Homo sapiens: one gene and its partners. The protein of the gene in region 2 purifies or fractionates together with the protein of the main gene of each other region. This does not show direct contact. Each region holds a gene or a part of one and is shown on either strand. Other genes may lie near its edges. The genes, in order: GNL2, HABP4 and FMR1.

Region 1 (8,234 bases), on a different chromosome or scaffold from region 2:
GTTCAAGCAATTCTCCTGCCTCAGCCTCCCGAGTAGCTGGGATTACAGGCATGTGCCACCACACTTGGCTAATTTTGTATCTTTAGTAGAGACGGGGCTTCTCCGTGTTGGTCAGGCTGGTCTCAAACTTCCGACCTCAGGTGATCCGCCCCCCTCGGCCTCCCAGAGTGCTGGGATTACAGACGTGAGCCACTGCTCCCGGCCACTTTCCTTGTTTTGATCATCCAGCTGCCCAGTCACAAAATTTATTTTGCCAATTGCTTTTAATTTTTAATTTCTGAGAGCTCTTGTTGAATTCTGATTTGCTCTGCCTCCTTTTACATCTTATTTCACAGTCACAGTATCATTAATGACGTTTTGAAATTTTCCTGTCTGCATTGATTCTGTTACCTCCAAATTTTTGTGGGTTTTTTTGTGTTTTCTGCTACAGTCACGCTTAAAAATTTTTTCTTTTACTTTAAAAATTTTTTTGAGACAGGGTCTTGTTCTGTCTTAACCCAGGCTGAAGTGCAGTGGTGCGATCATGGCTCACTGCAGCCTCGACCCGCAAGTAGAGTCAACTTAAATGTTTATTCTTGGTTCTCTATTTATATTTAAGAGTAAGGCATTAGGCCAGGTAGAGTGGCTCATGCCTATAATCCCACCACTTTGGGAGGATGAGGCAGGCAGATCGCTTGAGCTCAGGAGTTCTAGACGAGCCTGGGCAATATGGCAAAACTCCATCTCTACAAAAGATAGAAAAAAATTAGCAAGGCATAGTGGTGCACACTTATGGTTCCAGCTACCCAGGAGGCTGAGGCAGGAGGATTGCTTGAGCCCAGGAGACAGAGGCCGCAGAGAGCTGTGATTGTGTCGCTGTACTTCAGCCTGGTTGACAAGGGAAGACCCTGTTTCAAAAAAAAAAAGAGTAAGGCATTAAAAAGCTGATAGGTTCTTTTTTTTCTCCATGGAGTGGCCTTGTTGACTGATAGACTTCATTGTAAGGTGATTAAATAGGGACTCTAATTTAATTTAATTTTTTTTTTTTTTTTGAGACAGAGTCTTGCTCTATTGCCCAGGTTGGAGTGGAGTGGCCTGATTTAGGCTCACTGCAATCTCCGCCTCCTGGGTTCAAGCAATTCTCCTGCTTCAGCCTCCCAAGTAGCTGGGAGTACAGGCAAGCACCACCAGACCTGGTTAATTTTTGTATTTTGAGTAGAGTTGGGGTTTCACCATGTTGGCCAAGCTGGTCTCAAACTCCTGACCTCAAGTGATCTGCCCACCTCAGCCTCCCAGAGTTCTGGGATTACAGGCATGAGCCACTGTGCCTGACTGGGACCCAAATTTTTTGTTGGGAGGACATCCTGTAGATACCAGTGTCTGTAGGTCTTTTTTCTTGGGCTTGTGAGTTTCCCCAGAAGAGAATCTTTCAATCTCTAGCTCTAGGGGTATAGAATCCTGGCTGCTAGAGTTCTGGGAACTCAGTGGGAATAGTAGACTGGGCATCTCACTATTGAATACTTAGATTTTCAATTAATCATTCTGGGAATACTGTTATTATCTCTAAATCCAGGATCCCTTTCAAGTCTGAAGATTACAGATACTTTCAAACATGTGACATTTCAAAAAATCCAAAAGCCACTTTCATAGGCCCTGGATTTCTTTGAGAGTAGAGAAGTTGTGTGCCCACCCTGAATGAGGGAGGGGATGGAGAAGTGTGGCTGCTTTGGCAGACTATCTGCTGGTCCTTGTTTTCAGCCCTATCTTAAGAGGGATCTACCACCAATTCCCAGTGATTCCCAATGAATCTCTGTGATTCATTGTCATTATTATTGCTGGATCTTTAGTTTTTCTATCTTTACAACCACTTAGCTTTTATATTTTGTAATGGGCCAAGTTTGATACTACTTTTAAGCATCTAGTATTTTGTTTAACATCACTTTAGTTTTTGTTGTCTCATCTCCATCTCATTCTCTGGTTCAGTATGTTTGGTTCTATTGGTTTAAAAGTGTTAATGTCCACTGCTGTCATTCTAGTGGAGTTGGTGAGGGAACGGGGTTAGCATGTATGTTCAGTCCACCATCTTTAATCGGAAGCCTCCATTCGTTTGTAGGCCCTCTTCTTGATAGCAAGCTCTGCCTTTTTGAGACTTTCACCCTGTAGTCGTAACTTTCAAGGTTGCTTTTTTTCTTTTGTTATTTATTTTTGGCAGTGGAAATGCAGATGTATTATGCAAAGAAAAGGGGGGGTGAGTTGTGGGATTGTCCAGTTGATGAACCTGTTCATATTCTTTTTCCCGAAGATGTTTTATCAATAGATGGCATTGTTCTAAATCAGTGACTAACAAGCTGTTTTTCTTCTTTTGTTTCTTTTTTTTTTTTTTGAGACTGGAGTCTCTGTCACCCAGGCTATAGTGCAGTGCATGATCTTGGTTCCCTGCAACTTCGGCCTCCCAGGTTCAAGCGATTCTCCTGCCTCAGCCTCCCAAGTAGCTGGGATTACAGGCTTGCGCCACCATGCCTGGCTAATTTTTGTATTTTTAGTAGAGACAGGGTTTCATCATGTTGGCCAGGCTGGTCTCGAACCCCTGACCTCAGGTGATCCGCTCTCCTTGGCCTCCCAAAGTGCTGGGATTACAGGCGTGAGCCACTGTGCCGAGCCTTCTTTTATTTCTTGACCTACATACTTTTAACCTTAACACATACAAGGATAATTTCACTTGCATGACTGAGGAAATGACTCACCTCTGATTTATTAATAAGCATATGTATCCAGCTTACTCAGATTATGTAGGTGGTGTGTATCTAGGCTTCAGATCAAGTTGTATCAACAGTTTTGCACTGTATTCTTGATATTAACAAAGTAATACAACCTACTTGTCCAAAGGGATATATATGACTGCATGTATGTGCTGTGTATTCTCTCTTTGAACAGTTGCACACTGACAAGAAACAGATCAGTGTTGGGTTCATTGGCTATCCAAATGTTGGCAAGAGCTCTGTGATAAATACATTGCGTTCTAAGAAAGTTTGCAACGTGGCTCCCATTGCAGGTGAAACAAAGGTACGTTGGGCGCAGGGTGACCTTACTTTTGCATATTTTCTTTTCATAGAGAGTGATTGTTTAGGACTTGTTGATTTCTCTCTGCTTCTCTTGAATGCAGACCACCACTAGGAGTTTAGCTCACCATATAATAGTTTGGAACGTATCAGAGTTGTTTCTGCCCACTTTGATAAGACTGAGAGTATTTTATATGCCCCCGTGTGGCTTTGGCCTGTGTTAGTTAATGTGATTCATATTTAGATCTGTTTTAAATTATCACTCCAGCCTTTTATTTTGATAAACAAAACTAACCCAAGAATATTTGATGCCTGGGTTAAGAAGCCTCAAACTTAAGGTAGGTTCTGAAAGTTGGGGGTCATATCCTAGAACACATAGTGGGGAACAGCATGGTTTTGCTTAAAGGCAATGAGGTCAAGCAGTACTAAGCTCTCAAGAGTACTTCTAAAACTCAGGAAAGGTTCACCGGGTATAATTGCACAATACGAGATGGAAATCCTGTCTCTGTGTTGTTTTTAGACTCTTAGCTGATGGAAACTATAGTTTACACTTAGTGGAAGTATCTTGTGCACGGCACAGATGAGAGAGTTAGTAGCTTAATTACTTAGCGCGTTGCTTTTCTTTGACTCACCCCTTCCTCCTTTCCAGCTTCATACATGAGCATCAGGGGTTTGTGAAATTAGACTCTTAGTGTTTGATACAGGACATCTCTGACTTTTTTCTGACTTCAGGTCTGGCAGTATATTACTTTGATGCGTCGGATATTCCTGATTGACTGTCCAGGTGTGGTTTACCCCTCTGAGGACTCCGAGACAGACATTGTGCTAAAAGGAGTTGTGAGTATTTGGCCCTGATAGGCTGTTTGTGTTTGCGGGGGAGTGTTCTATAGGGAACCCTGGATACCTTTCCTTTTTACTTATTAAGAAGGCAGTTTGGGGTCAGCCTGTCTGACCAAACTTTAGGAACATGATGCTGAACAGCAGCCTCTCAGCATAAGCTGTTTGAGGAATTAGTGGAACCATGGGCATATCTGGTCAATATCATCCCACAAAAGAGTTTGTAGTTTACACACAGGATCCAAAGGGAAGCAGGGCCTGTTTATGCTTAGCGATAATTCGTCTTCGTGGGTTTATGGGTTGAGTCATTTTGGAACCCAGTCATTTCCTCACTTGTTTCTGAATACGACTGAAAAACTGTAAATGGTTCCACTTAACCTTGACCATGCTTCTGGCTATACATCCTGTACACATTCCTCCTCTCCTTTCTTAAACTATTCCATTATTTTTGTGTCCTGGGATGGGCAGGCTTTTAACCATTTCTGCAAGTGAGTAACATGAAGCATTCCAAGTTTAAACTGTGGCAGCCACACAGTTAGTTTGTGGTGAGTGGGGATTAAAGCTGAGTTCTGGGCTCCGTGGCTATGGTCAGCTTTCAGCAGTGCTCCTTGCAGCTGACCATGTCTAGCCCCGTCAGAGACAGGCTCCTGCCAATCTCCACGAGCTTTGTGATGTTGAAGTCTATTTTCAAATAGTGCTGCAAAGGACACTGGGAACTTCACTGCTTCCACAACAAAGTTTGTAAGTGAGAGATTTCCTATTAACATTTAGGTTCAAGTAGAAAAAATTAAGAGTCCTGAAGACCACATTGGTGCTGTACTTGAACGAGCAAAGCCAGAATATATCAGCAAAACATACAAGATTGATTCTTGGGAGAATGCTGAGGACTTTCTTGAGAAGCTCGCTTTCCGGACTGGGAAGTTACTAAAGGTGACCCGGCGTTTGTGAGAATTTAGACTGATACTTGTCACAAGCATGTATGTATATGATATGGGCCTTTTTTTGGTATGCATGTATGAGCAGTGTGAAACTTGTCACTTAAGTGATGATGAACCCCTGGGACAACTGAAATACCCCCAAAGTGGTAGGTGGTTTTGGTCCTTTGAATTTAATTGGGAATCTCTTTGTGACCTTTCAGGGTGGAGAGCCCGACTTGCAGACTGTGGGTAAGATGGTCCTCAATGACTGGCAGAGGGGCCGGATTCCTTTCTTTGTCAAGCCACCCAATGCAGAGCCACTTGTGGCCCCCCAGGTAAGAGCAGGGTGGGCCCACCTCTGGGGAGCATGGGTCCTGACCTAGATTTGGTGTAGCTTGTGATTGTCTCTCTTCATAGAGCGTGTATTCATTCAGCTGCGGTGTCTCTCATTTTATTATTTTTTTAAATATATAAAAATATTTTTGGGGCCGGGCATGGGTGGCTCACGCCTGTAATCCCAGCACTTTGGGAGGCCGAGGTAGGTGGATCACAAGGTCAGGAGTTCAAGACCAGCCTGACCAATATGGTGAAACCCTGTCTCTACTAAAAATACAAAAATTAACCTAGCATGATGGCACGCTCCTGTAGTCCCAGCTACTCGGGAGGCTGAGGCAAGAGAATTGCTTGAACCCAGGAGACAAGTTGCAGTGAGCCGAGATCGTGCCACTGCACTCTAGCCTGGGCAATAGAGGGAGACTCCATCTCAAAAAAATAAAAAAAAATTTTTTTGAGGGTGAAGCACTGTTGGGAGCCACTGCTGGCCCATGGCGATCACTCCACCCTCTCTCATTCTAGAGTGCCAGTGCCATGGCCTTGCTAGGGGGTGCATTTGGAGACTAATAAGTAGACATATGAGAGAAGACCAAACTTAGATACTAGCCTTTAGGGCCTTGGAAAAAGAGGGCTCATTAAATGTAAGTGATCTTCTGGTACCTGTATCTTTTCTTATGCTTACGAAACAGAATCATTGCTAAGATAACATTTGTTTAACAAACATTTATTAGCATCGACTATGTGCCAGGCACAGGGAATATAGGAACGAAAAACAGCCCTGGCCCTCAAAAAACCTGTGATCCAGTGGGAAAGGAGAGTGGTACTACTGATAGTCGGAGAAAGAAGACTGAAGGCTGGGGCCAGAAGCTCTCCTACTATCCCCATTTCCCTCACCCTGGCAGTGGGCCGCCACAAGGCTCAACGTTAACGTTTTGCCTTTCTGGTTCTAGGACCTTTTTCAGAACCCAGCCAAGTCTCTTGAAATGGTGGCTTCAAATTGTGCATCTATGCTTGCTAGTGTCGTTGGGTCCATACAGTGCTGGTTTCCTCTCACCTGACCCCATTCCAAGTTGCAGTTGCAGCTAGGTATTTTCAGTTGAATGTATTCTGCAGCATTTGAAAGTTAGCCTGAAACTGATGTTAATTGACATTCTCCCTTCTCCCTGCCCAAACCATCAAACAACCAAACAAAAATTTCTCTCCCTCTTCATGTGTATTGCATCTTTCATTCATTAATTCACTGATACATTCACCCAGCAATCCCATATTGAGTGTCTCCTGTTGGCCACAGACTCTTCTGGGTACTGGTGGTGCTGTGGTGAGAAACTGACAAGCTGCTGCTCTCCTGCACATATATTCCAGCAGGGGAGTGTGTGGTTTCTTCTGACACCAAATACATAATTTTTTTCCATATCAGTTCTGCAGTTCTCAGATACCAGCTGAGTGTCCCAACAATTTAATTCAGTTGTGACACTAACTCCCGGAGTTAGCACAGACCCCACAAGTTAAGGACTAGGTCCCCTGCTTCAGATGGCAGCTTCAGGCTATCCACACTTACGCCCGGCTAACTACAAATTCAGGGGTTCTGGGGTTTGATAATTTGCCAGAAGGACTCCCAGAACCCAGGAAAGTGCTGTGTTTACAATTAACGGTTTATGATAAAGGATGAAACTCAGTCACAGCCAGTGGAAGAGGTGCACAGGGTAAGGTATGGGGGAGAGGCACAGAGCTTCCATGCCCTCTCCACACATTGATGTGTTCAGCAACCCAGAGCTTTCCAAACCCCATCATGTAGGGGTTTTTATGGAGGTTTCATTACATAGACATGACTGATGAAATCTGTGGCAGTTGGTGATAGACTCAATTTCTGGTCTCCCTTCTCTCCTCTGAGTGGCTGAAAGCACCAACCATGTGGTCAAGTGCTTTGTCTTTCTGGTGACCAGCGCATCCCCCATCCTGAAGCTATCTAGGGGTCTACCATGAGTCACCACATTAGCATAAACTCAGGTGTGGTGGAAAGGGGCTTGTAATCAATAAAAAAGATACCCATCGCTTGGGAAATTCCAAGGGTCTTAGGAGCTCTGTGCCAGGAAGTGTGACATTTATATCACAGGGAGACAGTAGGCAGATAAACATATAATGTCAGGAAGTCTTGCGTGCTGTGAGGAAAACTAAACCAGGCTAAGGGGTTTGGGGGAGATGAGGAGTACTTTGGGGTGGTCGGGGAAGGCCTCTGAGGCAGTGGCACTTCAGCAGAGCCCTTAATATGAGACAGGAGCCATGCTAGTATCTAGGGAGAATGTTCCAGGCAAGGGGAACAGCACATCCAGAGCAGCTGGGGCAGGAGTATGCTCTGTGTGTCCTGATGCTGAAAGGAGGTCACTGTGGCTGGAATGTCGTGGGCCAGGAGAGGGTGTCATGGTGGGAAGCCATTGGAGGTTTTGAGTTAGCAGCTGGATTCTAGGGTCATTCTGGATGTCCGTATCACTGCTGTCTTGGGACCCTGTGTGGAAACACTGGCATTGTCTTCAGCCCTTCCTCCGTATGTAGTCAGTAAGTGTAGATAAGTAGTTCAGATAATTCTTAAGAACTATTGTAACCATAATAGATTTGTTGCCCAATGCACACAGCAAGTCAATATGCTGAGACACCACCAGGTTGCAGCAGAGAAAGAAGTTTAACCGTAGGGTCACCAAAGGAGGAGATGGGAGGAATCCTGAAATCATTTCCACGAGGAGTTTGGGGTTAGGGTTTTAAGGGTTTTGGAGTGGGCTGGAGTGAGGGTCATTGGTTGGGTGAAGAGTGCAGGGTGAAGTCACGGACAGGGAGATGAAGAAGCTGTGTTCTCATGCAGATCCCGTTTCTCTGGGGATCTTCAAACTGGTTGCTGGAATTAGGGATCTGAAAAGACATTTTAAGCAATCCTTAAACAAAAACCTTATGATTCTAATGTCAGAGATCTTGCCTATAGGAACAATGGGGGTGCATATCAATTCTTACATAGTCTTATGACCCAAATGTCAGAAATCCTATCTATAGGGACAGTGGGGATGCAAATGGTCAGTACCTAGTGTTCAGGAACTTTTAGCAACAAGGATATGGGCCAAAG
Region 2 (8,873 bases):
CTGAAGATGAAACCAGAGAGAAGGGAAGGAAGGGATTCAGAAATGAATTAGACACTATTTCTAACCTTAGGGAGGAGAAATAAGGACAAAGAACTATAATGCAGGCCAATAATCCAGTGTGACAAGAGGCACAGCAATACCACATTCATGCTCATCATCACATGCAAGGAATTCTGTTTGCTACCTGCCCAGCATCTATTCCTACCTGCTGGTTTAGAAACCTTATTTTCCTCAGGGAACCACCCCATCAACTCTCAGTTCCAGTGGTTCAGGGGGTGATGACTTCAATCAGACTCCAGCTTGGGCTGGTAATCAAGCCTGGATGATGAGAGAATTAAATGATCTTCAGTACAGCAACTGGGTTCAATGGTGTATGTGTGACCCAAGACATAGGCCCGTGATTCAATTCTGGGACTTCTGTGCATGCACTAAAGTCAAGTCGGCCAGGCATGGTGGCTCACGCCTGTAATCTCAGCACTTTGGGAGGCTGAGGCAGGTGGATCACCTGAGGTCAGGAGTTCGAGACCAGCCTGACCAACATGGTGAAACCCTGTCTCTACTAAAAATACAAAAATTAGCTGGATGTGGTGGTGCACACCTGTAATCCCAGCTACTGGGGAGGCTGAGGCAGGAGAATCACTTGAACCTGGGAGGTGGAGGTTAAAGTGAGCCAAGATTGCGCCACTGAACTCCAGCTGTGGCAATAGAGTGAGACTCCATCTCAATAAATGAATAAATAAAGTCAAGTTGGCCAGGCATGGTGGATCATGGCTGTAATCCCAACTCTTTGGGAAGCTGAGGCAAGCAAATTGCCTGAGCTCAGGAGTTCCAGGCTGGTCTGGAATTTCTGGAGCGAATCACTGTTCCTGGTAGATTTTTTTTTTTTTTATTGAGCCAACAAAGTCCTTGGTTTTACTTATTCCAGATGGGTTTTCTGTTGCTCACAACTTGAAGGATCTAGAATAAATGAGGAAATAAAAAGTTCTAAATCCCCAATTATTTATTTGGCCTTGATTAAAGTTACAACTAGAGATCAAACTTTTAATAGTAGGAATGGGAGAGAATAAAAATTTCTATTGGCACAATTGCTTTGAGTATACAAAGCACTAAGCTATCCAGTAACCTTTTGTCATAAGAAGGCAAGTTGGAAAGACCCTCAATGACACCAAGAATACAAATATTATTAGCAGGTTGGGGAAATTATTTCATGATTTAAACATTGTGTATCTGATCATCATGAATGGATTTCCGCTTGCTAGAAGTTCTTCTGGTGCATCCTGATTGTTAACTAATGGTTTATGGTTCTACAACTCCTGACTTTGAGCCTATGTACTTGCTACTTGCTTTATTCATTTGTTGTGGGAAACTGAATTTGAACTCACTTATCACCCTTAGAATAGTGAAACCAGGAACTATTATGTAACTTCATTGATCCTGTCATAATTGACTCAACTGGCATAAAAGATCAGATCCTCTTAGAGTTAGGAAAAATACTTTTGTTTTTGCATATATTATGCAAGTAGAAACAATTATAAAATAGTGAGATTTATTTTTACCTTTTTCAATTGACTTCTTTGGTCTTGTCTTCCATTCAACTATATGAAGAATGCAAGACAGGTTATAATCATCCTAACTTTAGGGACAAGAAAAAGGTAAGGAGAGAGAGAGCAGGAATTCAGCGGCAAAACAGAGCAGATTGAATGCAGTGCTTTGGTAATTAACAAGAACTCACATCCTCGCCAGCCTGACCTGGCCTCTCCTCCTTGGCTCTCACCCAGGTGTTGCTCCCTGCATGTAATTGAAAGTAATGAAGCTACATGTGTCTAAACTCTCAATTAATGGTTCTGTGAATTCCAAGTCAATCTGGAAGATGTTAGTGTATTTTATTATTCCTAATGGGACTCCTCTATTAAGTAATTCAAGGTAATTTACATCTTGTATACAGTTAAGTTTCACTGCATTTCCATTGGTGGTAATAAATAACCACTGGAATATATATAATAATCATGGAAGGGCTGGTAGTATTATTCAGCATCCACACTTCACAGCATTTTTGATGTGCTTTGTTTTTCCATGCTATAAGATGTGTGTTATTGTTTGGTATTATGATTACTAAAAGCTGTTTTCATATATCAGATTATGAAAAAGATCAGTCTATTAAACTGACCACATTAAACACAATGTGTGAATAACTTATGCTAATGTGGTAGAGTTGTATTTTAGGAATGCATTTAAGGATGCAATCTCCTAGAAGAAAAAACAATCAGTAAAAAATATGAGGGTGCTTAACCTTACTCTCAGTAAATTGTGCAGTAGTCAATAGCCCCGTAAGAAACTCATGGCCATGGCCGGGCACGGTGGCTCACACCTGTAATCCCAGCACTCTGGGAGGCTGAGGTGGACAGATCACTTGAGTTTGAGAGCAGCCTGACCAACGTGGTGAAACCCTGTCTCTGCCAAACACACACACACACACACACACACACACACACACACACACACACACAAAGAAAAAAAAGAAAAAAAAGAAACTTGTGGCCATCTAATACCAGGTAAGGATTACTCATCTCTATTTCAGTTCTAAAGATGTTCTGAATCCTGAAGCAACGAGAGTTGGTTCTCTTACAACCATTTGGGGCATTTGTGACTTGGAAATGAGGCGGCAGTGCTCACAGGGCATGCTTTAAGAACTTACAGTGGCTGGTTATGCTGTAAGGAAGATAAGAAGAAAACAGGGGAGCAGGCTAACTCCAGATGCCCAGTGGGAAGACGACAGGCCCTTCTCTCACATGATCATGATTCCTTGGTGTTGTGGTTTGGTGATGAGCAGTTTAAAGATACCAAAGATAACTTTAGCTTGAAGCAGTGCTTCTCAAAGTGTGGTCTCTGTTGCATGTAGTGATTCTGGTTCATTGAGATAAATTTACTATTTTTACTCTGGTTCATTAAGATAAATTTACTATTTTTACAAAAAATTTACTATTTTTACTAAATTTTACACAAAATTTACTATTTTTACAATTTTAAAGTGTACAACTCAGTGACATTTACTAAATTTACAATTTTGTGCAACCATCTCCACTATCTCGTTCCAGAACATTTCATCACCCCACAGGAAACTCCCATGCCCATTAAGCAGTTACTTTCCAACACTCCCAACCCCCACACCTGGTGACCACCAATCTGCTTTCTGTCTCTATAGATTCTGGACATTTCATATAAATGGAATCATACAACGTGTGGCCCTTTTTGTCCGTCTTTCACTTAGCACAATGTTTTCAAGTTTCATCCCTGTTGTAACAAGTATCAATACTTCCTTTTTGACCAAATAATATTTTTTGTACCACATTTTATTTATCCATTCATCGGGTGACATGTATATTATTTGTTTCTGTCTTTTGGCTATTGTGAATAGTGCTGCTATGAATACTCATGTACAAGTTTTGGTTTGAACACTTGCTTTTAATTCTTTTGGGTAGAAAGCGTAGGCATTAATCTTTGCTCACTCAAAAGGAGATGACCAAATATCTTAAATTCTTCAATCATTCAACAAATATTTACTGAAAACCTACTCTATAGCTGCTTAGAACGCCAAGCACTGGGAATACATACTGCAGTGAATAAGACAGGCATCATCCCTGTCCTCCTTGGGAATAACACAAAATTCAATAAGTGAGTAACACACAGACTTTACAGCATTTAGGATTAGGAATTCCTTTGCTATTAAGGAAAGTAAAAGCTGGTCACAGAGCACCTGGCAAGATGCTCTAACTGGATGCTTTCGGATGAAACAAGCAAACACAACTAAGCGCAATCACATCTGTCACCTTACATCATAAGCCTCAAGTAGGGAGGTTCCCAAGTGGGTCCAGTCGGCAGCTCAACCTCATCAAGGATCTAGCCTTTCTCTATCCTGCTCTGCCATCCTCATGGCCACGCTAAGGAACAGCCACCCGAGGCATCATGTCTTCTCATGGAACAAAGACCAGGGAACAGAAGGGGGGGAGATCCCTTCTCAATCCCTTGTTAGGTGCAAGAAAAACTTTCCCAGAATACTTCTCAGATCTGTTCTGCCCGATTTGCCCCACAGCCTATTCCTAAGCCAATTACTGGCAAGGAATTGGAATCAGGTGCAATGAATAATGTATGATTAATCAAGTTTGAGGCTGGAAGGGGCCCTCTTCCCCTGGGGAATATGATGCCTGAACAAAATACAGGCTCTGGAAAAATGTAAGAGGGAAAGAACGGCTGTAGGATAGGCAGCCAAGCGTGTCTCCACCGCTGCCTATGCAAAGATTTCCTGGAGGAAGTCCAGTCCGGCGTTCTCTAAGCTCCAGGCCTCAACTGAATATCTCAAAAGAAAACAAATATCCAAACCTCAACGTGTCCCAGACTGAATTAATGATTCCCGTTAAAGTAGTGTCTTCCAGTGGTAACTAATACTATCATTCAGATGCTGGAGCCAGGAAAATAAGAGTCACCGTATCTTCTTCTCCCTCATCACCACCTCTAGCGCATCACCAAGTCTTTGAATCCATCTACTCTCTTCGCCTCCACCGCCACCATCCTAATCCCAGTCACTATCAACTCTTCCCTGGAGCTTTGCAACAATCATGTTTGGCTTCCCAGCATCCATTTGTATTTCCCTCCAAACTATTAGTTCACAGTGCAGGTAGGGTGGCCTTTTCAAACCCAAATCTGCTCATGCTCAAAACTTGCTTCCCACTGCTCTTAGAATAGAGACCACTTTGAGCTTGAATAGGCTGTGCACATCCCACCTCAAGACTGCTGCACTTGCTGTTCCTCCTCCAACCCCTTGTCACCCCTCTCCCTCGGCTTAACTGTCATTTCCCAATTAGGTCAGATCCCTTTGCTGCAGCCCGTAGAGAGCTCTGCGCCTGTCCTTCAGGGCACTTTTTCTCCATCTACAGACTCAGATCTGTGACAACACGGAGCTAGTATTTCCTACAACATAATGCCTGGCACACGGTAAGTGCGCAATATGTAGCTGTTGCACGGCTAAATGTATACATAAGCTTCAAAGCAGAGTGGCCCATAGCAAATACGGTCGCAGTCCCGGGAGAAAGCACACACAGCCGAGACCCCACCGCTTCGTCGGCGCCGCCTGGACCAGCCAGTAGCTCCGCCCCTGGGCCCCGCCCCTCCCTGCTGAGCGAACGGGGCGGGGCCCAGAGGTCGCGTGACGTGACAGCAGCCGGTCGGTGATTGGGTCTCCAGGCGCGCCGTGTCGGAAAGGGGGCGCACCCGCGCGCGCTGACTGGCTGTCTGGCGCAGCGGGGCGGACGGCGGCGGCGCCGCGGGGGCGGGCGCCGGTAGGGGCCGGACAGGGTAGGGCCCGGAGGGCGGTGGCGGCGGAGCGGGCGGCATGGGTCCTGGCCGCCGGCTTCGCTGAGACGCGCTCGCGTGGGCTGCCCTCCCGGGCCCGCAGTGGTCGCGGCGGCATGAAGGGCGCTCTGGGGAGTCCCGTGGCTGCCGCTGGCGCCGCGATGCAGGAGAGTTTCGGCTGCGTGGTGGCCAACCGCTTCCATCAGCTGCTGGACGACGAGTCGGACCCGTTCGACATCCTGCGCGAGGCCGAGCGCCGGCGCCAGCAGCAGCTGCAGCGCAAGAGGCGCGACGAGGCGGCGGCGGCGGCCGGGGCCGGTCCCCGCGGCGGCAGGAGCCCAGCCGGGGCCTCGGGCCACAGAGCCGGCGCGGGCGGCCGGAGGGAGTCGCAGAAGGAGCGCAAGAGCCTCCCGGCGCCCGTCGCTCAGCGGCCCGATAGCCCCGGGGGCGGCCTGCAGGCGCCGGGTACGCGGGGACAGCGGGGTTAGCGGACCACGGCTCGGCCCGCTGTGAGACTGGGGTCCCGGGGGCCGGTTTCAGGAGGAGGGGCCCGGGAACAGTAGGGAGAGTTGAGGGTCCTGGTGGCCGCCGAAGGTAGGAGGAGAGGGGCAGGGGTCACACCCCTTCCAGCTCTCGCCAGCCTCGTGCGGGGCTCCGGGGGAAACGCTGGCTTGGGGTGGGATAGGGCCCTCGAACCCTGGCACTGAGGCTCTACGGCAAGTTGGACGAAGTTGAGGGAGGTTGTCTGGGTGGCGTGTGGGGGCGAACGGCTGAGGTCGCTACCCCGGGGCTCCCACATCCAGACCTGGCGGGGACCTTCATCTTCCAGCCCAGCCTCTGCAAGATTGAGGTCGGAGCCACCCGAGAGCGCGGTGGGGAGGAGGAGGGCGCCTGGTCCCGGGGCTGGGGGCCTCTGTGATGCCGGAGGCCTGGGCGACCGCGGGGCGGCCTGTGACGTCGGGGCCCGGGCGGGGGTCCCCGGCGCGGTCCGGCCTGGCGCCTTCGCCCCTTCTCCGTCCGGTAGCTTCCAGGAGGCAGCCGGCATCGTATTTCAGTACTTCGTGTGGTGTTGATGGGATGTGCAACTTATAAATAGCTCAAGGCTGCTTTAAGAAAAGCGTTTTTAACCTTTCCAGCAAGAATATTCGGAGTTCCCCACTCCCTATTTAGCAAGAAAAACCGGTGCGCAGCGTGGTGTCCTGCTGCCTGTGGACGGGGAGGGTGCTTCAGAGTTCATTCTCTCACCGAACTGCGTCAGTGGCAGAGCCAGCAACACTCCACCTGTGTTTCCTGTTTTCTTGAAATGAGGCAGCGGTCCCAAGGTTTGCAGAGTGTTAGGATTAAGATGTGTAGGTTGACCATTCCTGCCGACGTTTGCCAGTGTGTTCAACTTGGCTTTATTGGTTTGTTCCTTGCTTGATAAAAATTGTGCATCGCAGCCCTGAGGAAACGTCTCAGGTTTAAGTATTAGGGCTTTGATGTGCAGCTGGGTAATGTTTACCTTTATTTGTGAAAAGCTAAATCCAGAGTCATCACTTGAGAATCAAGTCACTACAATAAAGATGTTGAAAATGATTTTTAAAAAAATGTTATTTACTATCTCACGACACTTTGGTAGGCCAGTAAATTTCTGAGCCTATCTAAACAGTGAGACTGGAGATACATTGTGCATTTTATATCCTGTTTTTTATCTTTTTCTCTTAAACTTATTTACATCAATATAATAAAGGAATTGAGGAAGGCTAAGCTTTTCTTCACCCTTTATTTTTTAACAAATGAAAATGCCGGGTGTGGTGGCTCACGCCTGTAATCCCAGCAGTTTGGGAGTCCGAGGCGGGCGGATCACGAGGTTAGGAGATCGAGACCATCCTGGCTAACACGGTGAAATCCCGTCTCTATTACAAATACAAAAAATTAGTCGGGCGTGGTGGCGGGCACCTGTAGGTCCAGCTACTCGGGAGGCTGAGGCAGGAGAATGGCGTGAACCCAGGAGGCGGAGCTTGCAGTGAGCCGAGATCGAGCCACTGTACTCCAGTCTGGGAGAAAGAGCGAGACTCCGTCACAAAAAAAAAAAAAAAAAAATTCTGTGCTTCAGAAAAACGTGAGACGAGTTAGTGCTGTTAATACATTGATTTTTAGCCTTTTTAAAATTGTCATGCATTTTTGTGTTAAGAATTTTAAGCAATTCCAAAATGTATGAGGTTAAGTGAAAATCCTCTTATTTTTCCTACTAACACTTTGCATTTATATACATAAATGCACAGAGCTATTTCTTTTCTTTCTAAACTTAAATGATATAAACTGGGTTGCAACCTGTTTCCTGCACTTGATGTTGTCATGTAGTACACTCGTAACTTTTTTTTTCTGTCAGTTGTTAGGTCTAAGTGATCTGGCTTTTGAAATCAACTAAAGGTATTTAGTTGATTTTGTAGTTAGAACGGAAATTTTATCATTCAAGTTCTTTTTCAAGTATGTGTTATTTCAGGAGCAAACAGCTCATTAATTTCCATTTATGTAGTTACTGTACTAAATTTATCTATAATGGGTGTCAAGGAGCTATTCTCTCAAGGTTTTGTAACCCTAGTTGATAAGAAGCACTGTACTTTTCTAACATTCAAAATTTTTTATCTAGTTAGAATGTTGTAAGTGAATGCTTAGTGTAGACAAAAATAAAACATGTTTGACATATCATAGAAATGTTAATCCTGAAAGAATGTGGAAGTCACAAGCTTTTCCTATGGAAAAGGGTTTTTTTTTTTTTTTTTTTTTTTTTTTGAGACAGAGTCTTTTTTTTTGAGACAGGCTGGAGTGCAGTGGCATGATCTCGGTTCACTGCAACCTCTACCTCCTGGGTTCAAGCGATTCTCCTGCCTCAGCCTCCTTAGTAGCTGGCATTACAGGCATCTGCCACCATGCCCGGCTAATTTTTTTTTTTTTTTTTTTTTTGAGACAGAGTGCAGTGGCGGGATCTTGACTCACTGCAACCTCTGCCTCCCCGGTTCAAGCGATTCTCCTGCCTCAGCCTCCTGGGTAGCTGGGACTACAGGCATGCGCCACCATGCCCAGCTAATTTTTGTATATTTTTTAGTAGAGGCATGGGTTCACTATGTTCATGTTGGCCAGGATGGTCTCGATCTCTTGACCTCATGATCTGCTTGCCTTGGCCTCCCAAAGTGCTGGGATTACAGGTGTGAGCTACTGTGCCTGGCCTAATTTTTTATATTTTTAATAGAGATGGGGTTTCACCATGTTGTCCAGGCTGGTCTTGAACTCCTGACCTCAGGTGATCCGCCCGCCTCAGCCTCCCAAAGTGCTGGGATTACAGGCGTGAGCCATGATGCCTGGCCAAAAATGTAGGTTTTTAATGTCTGACTATCTGTCTAGCAATATGTATATAAACCCTTGGGTGAGCCTTGCTCAATAAGTTCATTCTTAAAGTCATGAGAGGCCGTTTCAGTTTTGCTTTTCCTAGCCTTTCAGAATTATGTTCTTTGAAACAAAGGTCAATTTTATTTTGTGGAAAATCT
Region 3 (8,234 bases), on a different chromosome or scaffold from region 2:
GGTGGACTTTGGCAAAAATGGTTTGGTTTGCAAGAGCAATGGAGAAAAAACTTATTTAACTTTTCCTACTTATAGAATCAAGGCAGCCTTGCGCTTGTTTAAACTTACTTGGCTATACACGTGTCTGATGTACATAATGTACATTTGTTTTCTAAACTAACTTTGTTCATTCTAAGATTTAAAAACTGATCAAACAAATGTGATAATTCTGTCATAAGTCACAAACTATAAACGATTTCTCCGTTTTTTTCTCTTTTACCTAAAATGTTTTCAGATAAATGTGTAATAAGTAGAGCCAAAGAAGCTTTAAAAAGTCATCTCATCTTACAATCCTTGATCTGGAATAATGCTTAAAGACTATAGAAGAGACGCATTTTTATTTTTTACAGATTTTATTAAGTGAATACAGTACGTTTGATTTGGACATGTTGTTGAACATTAAATTGCAGTTCAGAATACATAGAAATCCTCCCTTTTCTAGAGATTGTGTATGTGTGTAAATTTTTGTGCCTTCTGGTTCATGTACGTTTCCTTCTCTCCCTCAAATCGTTTAGCAGTTTCTTACCCCATTCTCCGTGATGTGCTTATTTCATATTGCATGCCTGTATCAAAACATCTCATATGCCCCATAAATATATATACCTACTATGTACCCACAAAACTAAAAATTAAAAAAAAAGGAAAAAAAAAGGCCTGCAACAAGAGAAGAAGAAAGAAATCAGATACCCTGTAGGTAGCTATCTCCAAAAGTTTTCAATAGTTGACTTAAGAAAACTACTGACTTGTATGTAACTGAAATCAGGAAACCTGTAGTGTAGAGTGGTTCCCCTGAATATGTCTCTTTTGGTAATCTAAGCTGTATTTCAGAAATGTACAGAAAAGGAGCTAAGCTTCTAAATGGATATAGCATATTTTGCATAAATCAAATTTAATATGAATCCATGATTCTTGTATGTGTAAATCTGCCTGCATTTATTTATGTCAGTAGTTGGTAATTATTCATCTTAATTTTTTTTTTTAAATTTCTAGGTGTGCCAAAGAGGCGGCACATAAGGATTTTAAAAAGGCAGTTGGTGCCTTTTCTGTAACTTATGATCCAGAAAATTATCAGCTTGTCATTTTGGTGAGCATTTTTGAGTTGTTTATTTTTAGTTTAATTCATCTGGGGCAATTGCCTTGATAATAATGTTGTTAATTTAAATCATTTAGTCCATCAATGAAGTCACCTCAAAGCGAGCACATATGCTGATTGACATGCACTTTCGGAGTCTGCGCACTAAGTTGTCTCTGATAATGAGAAATGAAGAAGCTAGTAAGCAGCTGGAGGTATGTCACTTTCCCTAGCACTGCTTGTAAGGGTACCTAGGAACGATTAACTGTATCATTCCACAACTTGAATATGGGGAGCTTGTCATTTATTTACTGCTTCTTAACAATTCCTTAGGTTCTATAGTTGGAAAATTGTACAAAGCATAATCATACTAAAGTTTCCATGCCTGAGGTTTCAAAATTAAACAGCAGCTTATGTATATTAAGGGACTTCTGGTACTTTCACTTTTACTAGAAGTTTATCAAAGTTGCTAATAAAATGCGGCAATGCTTCTTCCATATAACATGTTGTCATTAAAAATACTAGAGAATATTTAAATATCTAATCATATTCCTCTCATTATGTATGTTTATCTTTGTTTAAAAGGGTATAGAACTTCTTCATTCTAATTGGTTGTCATTCTTTAAAACTCCTGTCTTCAGATTCCCGCCAGAGGCTATTTCCCTAACTTACTATTTTGTCTCTTAAGGTGCATTTTATCTACTTTTATTAATCCTCCAATAATTTTCATCACCATATATTTGTTTTCATTGATAACTATCAAGTACGTCCATCCATTACTATAGAAACTAAGTGGATCTTAGATGAATGTGCCAGCTCTACTATATTCCTGTCAAATTCCAGAGTTCGTCATCATTATTCATTAGAAGGAAAACACCACACATTTGAAATAGTAAAGAAAAAAAGGAGTTCCAAACTGCATTTTAGGAGAAAAGGTAGTCAAGACTGTGTTCTTATAAAAACCCTGTGAAATTTGCCACCTGTCAACTTGATGTATGATGCTGAACTCTTAGCAGAAGGGGAAAAGTTTAATCTCCTTTTGCCACTTTGTTTTTTCTTAAGGCCATGGAGGTCTGTTTAATTGGTCTTTGCTCTCATTCTTTCTTGATGTCCCTGTGTTCATGATTTTGTGGTTCCTTCAGTGATTCTCTCATAACTTTTAGCCCAGAGCTGCCTCCTTACTTTGATTGTGAGTATTATGAAAATATACTCATATGCCTCTTAAACATCGAATTATTCTTAAATGATCTATCATACTTTTGGCTAACCATTTATCAGTGAATTATCAATGAAAAAGAACGAACCAGATTAATGAACCAGGACTCAAAAAACATGACTTCTTGAAAAGTCCTAGAATTATTTTATAGATTTTATTACTCTAGTCTAAAAAAAATGGGTATTGCACTTTTAAATTATTTATGCTAGTTGTATTCATTCATTCAAATTATCAGGTCTGTTGAACAATGAGAAACTAGTATGCATGCCTATCTTTCTTCACTACTAATATTAAAGAGATTTACATGTTCCTATAAGAAATTCCCATTTTTCAACATGAGCCACTAATACGTTTGGTTTTCATTAATGGCATGCTAGAACTGAACACTAAATTTTGATAATGGTATTTAAAGACAGTGGTTATCCACAAGTTTGGGATGTCAGTGTAACTTAGTTTCGTCATCACTGGATATTTACAAGTGCTCATCATAATTGTGGATCCAGATCACAAGGTCTTACGGACTCTGGTCTCATGTTAGCTTTCAGATGCTTACTAAGTTTTTAATTTTTGACATTTTTTGATTATTCAGTTTAACTACTGTACCAACAATTTTTGATTCCTTAGGTTTTGAGGGAGGTGTCATTTTAATGTCATTTCAACAGAGGAATGTTTAGACCACAGTACCTAATGATGTTATAAAAAATGGCACTGTTTCCAGAAAATATATACTGATACCTTTTAATAAAAATGAAGCGAATAAAATTTTCTATAAAGATGATATTTAAACATTTTTTTACCTAAATAAGTAACATTGAGTTTGTCAGACCGAGTGAGCTGGTTTTTACTGGGGAACATTTGACCTGCTTCTTAGTTATTATATTGCTGATGTCATTGGTTAACTAAGGCAGCCTTGTGATAAGTTTTCAGCAGTTACCTTGGAAAATGTCAACAAGTTCTTTCCTATTAACAAAAACATATAAAATGTCATAGACCTTTAGTAACCTAAAAAGTACTTAGGCTGTGAGAGGTATTTTCTAAAACCTGTTAGTTTTAACCTAAAACTATTAATAATTTATGGACCCCTCATATACAGGGTCAAGATAATTTACATGGCTGGCCTAAATACAGTTGTCGTAATAGTTGATAAAGTGTATTCATCAGACGTCCATTTCTCTTCAGAGTTCAAGGCAGCTTGCCTCGAGATTTCATGAACAGTTTATCGTAAGAGAAGATCTGATGGGTCTAGCTATTGGTACTCATGGTGCTAATATTCAGCAAGCTAGAAAAGTACCTGGGGTCACTGCTATTGATCTAGATGAAGATACCTGCACATTTCATATTTATGGAGAGGTAAATATTTTACTGCATAGTTTTTTTTTCCCCAAACAAGTATTTCAGCTGGCTAATCTTTTGTCTTAAAATGTTTCCCCTTTTATTAGGATCAGGATGCAGTGAAAAAAGCTAGAAGCTTTCTCGAATTTGCTGAAGATGTAATACAAGTTCCAAGGAACTTAGTAGGTAAGTCAGAAGTATCTGTTGACATATAGTACAACAACTAAGTTTAGGTAAACAGTTTATTTATAGTGATAGAATTCCATTTTTTCTTACTGGAGGGTATCATTTAATTGAAACATAGTCTTTGAAATATGATCTGTTCTTTTTTTTTATTATTTAAGTTTTAGGGTACATGTGCACAATGTGCAGGTTAGTTACATATGTATACACGTGACATGCTGGTGCGCTGCACCCACTAACTTGTCATCTAGCATTAGGTATATCTCCCAACGCTATCCCTCCCCCCTCCCCCCACCCCACAACAGTCCCCAGAGTGTGATGTTCCCCTTCCTGTGTCCATGTGTTCTCATTGTTCAATCGATCTGTTCTTACAGCATACAAAAAAATATTTGTTAAGTATGATGCTCAAAGGTTACATTTTCAGAAGGTATTCAAAAGAGATTGCTTTTCTAGTTCAAACCTACTAATACCTGAAAGGATAAATCTTGCCCAGCCCTCCTGACTGTATACCTTTTATATCTTAAAATTAAATAATTTTTCAAAATGAATGATATTTGGGGACTTTATGATTTGAAATAGATTTGTATTTGATCTTTCTTATGGGACTATAAAATGATAGCATTCATTTTAATTATCTCAGGGTTGAAGATCTGAACATAGGTTACTTAAATCTAAAAAGTTCCAAAGCTAGAAGAAACTTCAGATGTCTCTGGGACTTTCTGCAAAGTCAATAGTAATTCTTCATTTTGACTTGAGTAGTGTTTTATCACCATCACCATCGTGAGTATCAGCAAATATTTAGGAGCTCTTCACCAATACTCCTAAATGCTGCAGATATCTTTAGTAGAACATATCAAAACCAGGTGCAGTTTTATCAAGAAAGCTACATATGTTTTTAATTTGTAAATAAAATTGGGACATACTGCCTATATGTTTTTTATCTTTTAAACTTGAGATCATGGCCATTTTATATAAAGTAATACATGTTCTTTGGAAACTTTAAAGAAGAAAGCAAGGACTTCTCATACATTCTGTTTACGTAGTTTCAATGCTAATTTAGCCTGCTTTTTTGTCAGCATAGACTCATAAACATCTTCCTTGTCATTAACAAACACTAGAAATGATAAATGTATCTCCCAAAGAAAATTAGCTTGAAGATAAAGTGCAAATAGTAGGAAAATAATGCAGAAGTGTTAGCTCAACTGTGTACTACAGACAACTGGAGAAATGTGTTTGTAATGTTACTAAGGTAACTTGCATACCAATTGTATGTGTACAGAATGTATGCATAGCGCAAGATAAAGTGCTAATCTCAAGACAGTTGGGTGATGAATAATATTTATTTTCTTCTTTACAGCTTGTCAAGCAATTGCATACCTTTTGTAGTTAGAAAGGTTATTGTAAATTTAGGAATTCTTATGGAAAAAGAGCTGGTAGTTGTTTTGTTTTTTTTTTTTAATAGCAAATGAGTAGAGAATTATGTGTCAGATTCATTAAAGTTGGTTTTGAAGATGGCATGATGGTAGTGGGGAAAGTGCTTGGGCATTGGAGTTGGATCTGGATTTCAGTCCTACTTTATTCTTTGGTGGCAATGTGAGCGTGGGTCACTGTCTTAGCCCCCCTGAGAATTATTTTTCTTACCTATCAAATGTGATAATAGGATCCACCTCATAGAGTTGATGTGATAATTAAATTGGAAGATATAGTAGGGGACAATTCTGGACACAGTAGGGGACTCTGTTCTTCACCTTATTCAAAACAACTCCATTTCAGTAGAACAGAATCACAGTAAATTGCTCTTTGGGATTTGGAAATAAGTGTAATGTAGAATTGGATTATTTGCTATTAAATATTAAAAGTAGATTCTACCTGTGGTTACCTGGAAAGAAGAGGATCTCAGAAATAACCAGAAAGACTGCTAAAAGTAAATCAGCCTTGTTTTTGTTTTGTTGTTTCTAGTTAGTAAAATGAGATAATTCTGTTTTAGAGATGGTCCACTGCAACACTGGGAACGTTGGAACTTTTCAGAAAGCATTTTTGTGTAAGATTCTGCAAGGCAGATCTTTAGAGAGGTGTCATAATCAGTTTTGCATGTGTTTTGTTTGAGTCAACCAACGTTATTTGTGATCTCTATTTTTCACAAACTCTCTTTGGTATGTGCACTAATTTATCTTTTCATTAAAATTGGATTCTTCACTCACTAAGAATGAATTGGTATGACTATTCAGTCAGCTATAGTTAACACACAGTACTTAGGATAATTAAGATATTATCTTAATAAAAACATCCCCAAATCTCATTTTTCATTTTGTTAACTCACTTAGATCTTTATTAAAGTCAACATTAATTCATGAAAATGTAAGTGTTGCAGTTTAAAATCAAACTGTGTGAAGACTCCAAGTAGCTTCTCTCACCTCACCTTTCCCCTTTTCGTTATAGAAGAACAGAAATAATTGACAGAAGGACCTAGACCAAGAATCCTGATTTAATGGTGTCAGATCTGTTCTATGACCAGTCAAAGAGTTTCTAGGGGTGAATGAGGCAGCCACACACAGCAAGAATGTCAAAGCTATGCTCTGATTACAAGAGCCACAAGAATTTTTTGTGAGAAGGCTTTTCACTGAGTTCTTATCTAGCATTGGCTCAAAGCAAATTTTTGCTTCCATCTTTTCCCCCAACTTTGCCTTGAGCTTTGCCTTTAAAGGCGAAAAGGAAAAAATGGAAGATGAGATGGTGAGGGCAAGCACATGGTGGATGTGGCCAATGTAAGGGTACTTAGGTACCTTGGGTGAGCCCTCAGAATCAGATGTAGTTCACATGTACATTTCCAGAATTAGTAATTCTTAAGTTTGTAATGTCTTGCTTTACCACTCGTGTCATGATGCAAATGAAAGCAGTCATTTTCCAGTAATGTATATGATTGTAAAATAAATAAGGAAATGATCAAGTACCTATTTTTTACTGGTACTTGAAATCCCAAGTTTTAATAGATGTTACTGAAAAATACTTAAATTGGTTTAAAGCTTTTTCATTGTGGTTTTGAGTTATCTTAAAGTGGGTTTTCTTAATCTTTTACTCTGTGACTAATCCCTTCACTTTTTAATACATTGCTAAAGTTTGTAAGTAATGCACAGGAGTGATACTCTGTTAACACATTGACCTTGAAGAATTTGTATTCCTTTTGGATGTATGTATAGCTGCTTAAGCCACTTTCAGACTTAGATTATCTTTTATAAATGTGCCTTCCATACAGAATTCTGAAAATATTTACCATGGACAAAGAAGCAGATTTAAATCAGGTACAGACAAGAATTGAAAGTGTTGAATAAGTGAATATATTTCCCATTCTCTCTACTTTTTTCTTAATTCTTATAGAACTTTGCAGAAAGAATGATACATACCACAGTACCAGCAAGTTTAAAGCGTACCCTTTTGTGCAAAAATAAGAGGTTATCTTTGAACTGCCTTAAAAATCCAAAATTACCCTATCAGTTTGCAAGTATTAATCAACTCTGGTACCTGACCAAAGGAGTTTAAACAATGATGTCCTAATTAAACAGAAAACCAGATTAACCATCTTGTTGAAAAGAGTCTCTACTTTGGTTTTGAAATCTTACAATTCAATACATACACATACACATAAAAATATCTATCTATATGAATGTAATAGTTTACAGTAGGGCTGTGCTTACTGCTTTGAGGTATGTGTTTTTAAAACCAAACTTGATTTATTTATTTCTTAGGCAAAGTAATAGGAAAAAATGGAAAGCTGATTCAGGAGATTGTGGACAAGTCAGGAGTTGTGAGGGTGAGGATTGAGGCTGAAAATGAGAAAAATGTTCCACAAGAAGAGGTATGTTACAGTGCGAATATTTTGTGGCACATATAATAAAAGTAAAAGTTTTTTATGTGATATGTTGAGGACCTCTAATATGTGCATAAAGTGAATGCAAATATTCTGATTATCAAGCATGCCTGCTGTAATTAATGTTATAATTGTAGATAATGGCCCTTCTCTGTCCTCTAATGCAGTGAGTTTGGATTAGTCACTTTATTGAATTCTTTTTTCCTGATCTTTAAAATGGGTAGTTATAAATTTTTAAATATGAGACATACATCACTGGGTCGAGTGTTAATGGCAATTTAATAAAATAATATATATGTAAATGCTTCGTAAAGCACTTTGTAAATGTTAATGTTGCTGACAAAAGCAAAATTGGAACACAGGTTTTCTGGCTTTCATCTTTTCACTTTTTTAGTGTGGGGATTGTGTAGTATGTGTGTTTATTCTGTGTGCTTTAAATTTATTTCTGTGCTTAATATCTCTTCCCCATCCTCCTTACCTTTAAATTCTGTAACCCTTTTATCTTCATAAATATATGCTTTTTGTAG

Evidence for each region.
Region 1: the proteins of HABP4 (region 2) and GNL2 purify together in Homo sapiens (affinity purification with mass spectrometry; 2 studies listed by BioGRID and IntAct, with this or other methods). This does not show direct contact.
Region 3: the proteins of HABP4 (region 2) and FMR1 purify together in Homo sapiens (affinity purification with mass spectrometry; 2 studies listed by BioGRID and IntAct, with this or other methods). This does not show direct contact.

What each region holds. Positions count from the first base shown.
Region 1 is NC_000001.11:37,571,236-37,579,469, reverse strand, and holds part of GNL2 (nucleolar GTP-binding protein 2), read left to right. Parts: intron 1-2,913; coding exon 2,914-3,042; intron 3,043-3,770; coding exon 3,771-3,875; intron 3,876-4,646; coding exon 4,647-4,805; intron 4,806-5,013; coding exon 5,014-5,127; intron 5,128-8,234. UniProt on the Homo sapiens protein: GTPase that associates with pre-60S ribosomal subunits in the nucleolus and is required for their nuclear export and maturation.
Region 2 is NC_000009.12:96,444,818-96,453,690, forward strand, and holds the start of HABP4 (intracellular hyaluronan-binding protein 4), read left to right. Parts: upstream 1-5,351; 5' UTR 5,352-5,462; coding exon 5,463-5,811; intron 5,812-6,371; exon of another isoform or gene 6,372-6,649; coding exon of another isoform or gene 6,650-6,668; intron 6,669-8,873. UniProt on the Homo sapiens protein: Ribosome-binding protein that promotes ribosome hibernation, a process during which ribosomes are stabilized in an inactive state and preserved from proteasomal degradation.
Region 3 is NC_000023.11:147,928,919-147,937,152, forward strand, and holds part of FMR1 (fragile X messenger ribonucleoprotein 1), read left to right. Parts: intron 1-1,029; coding exon 1,030-1,123; intron 1,124-1,209; coding exon 1,210-1,326; intron 1,327-3,506; coding exon 3,507-3,677; intron 3,678-3,766; coding exon 3,767-3,845; intron 3,846-7,585; coding exon 7,586-7,695; intron 7,696-8,234.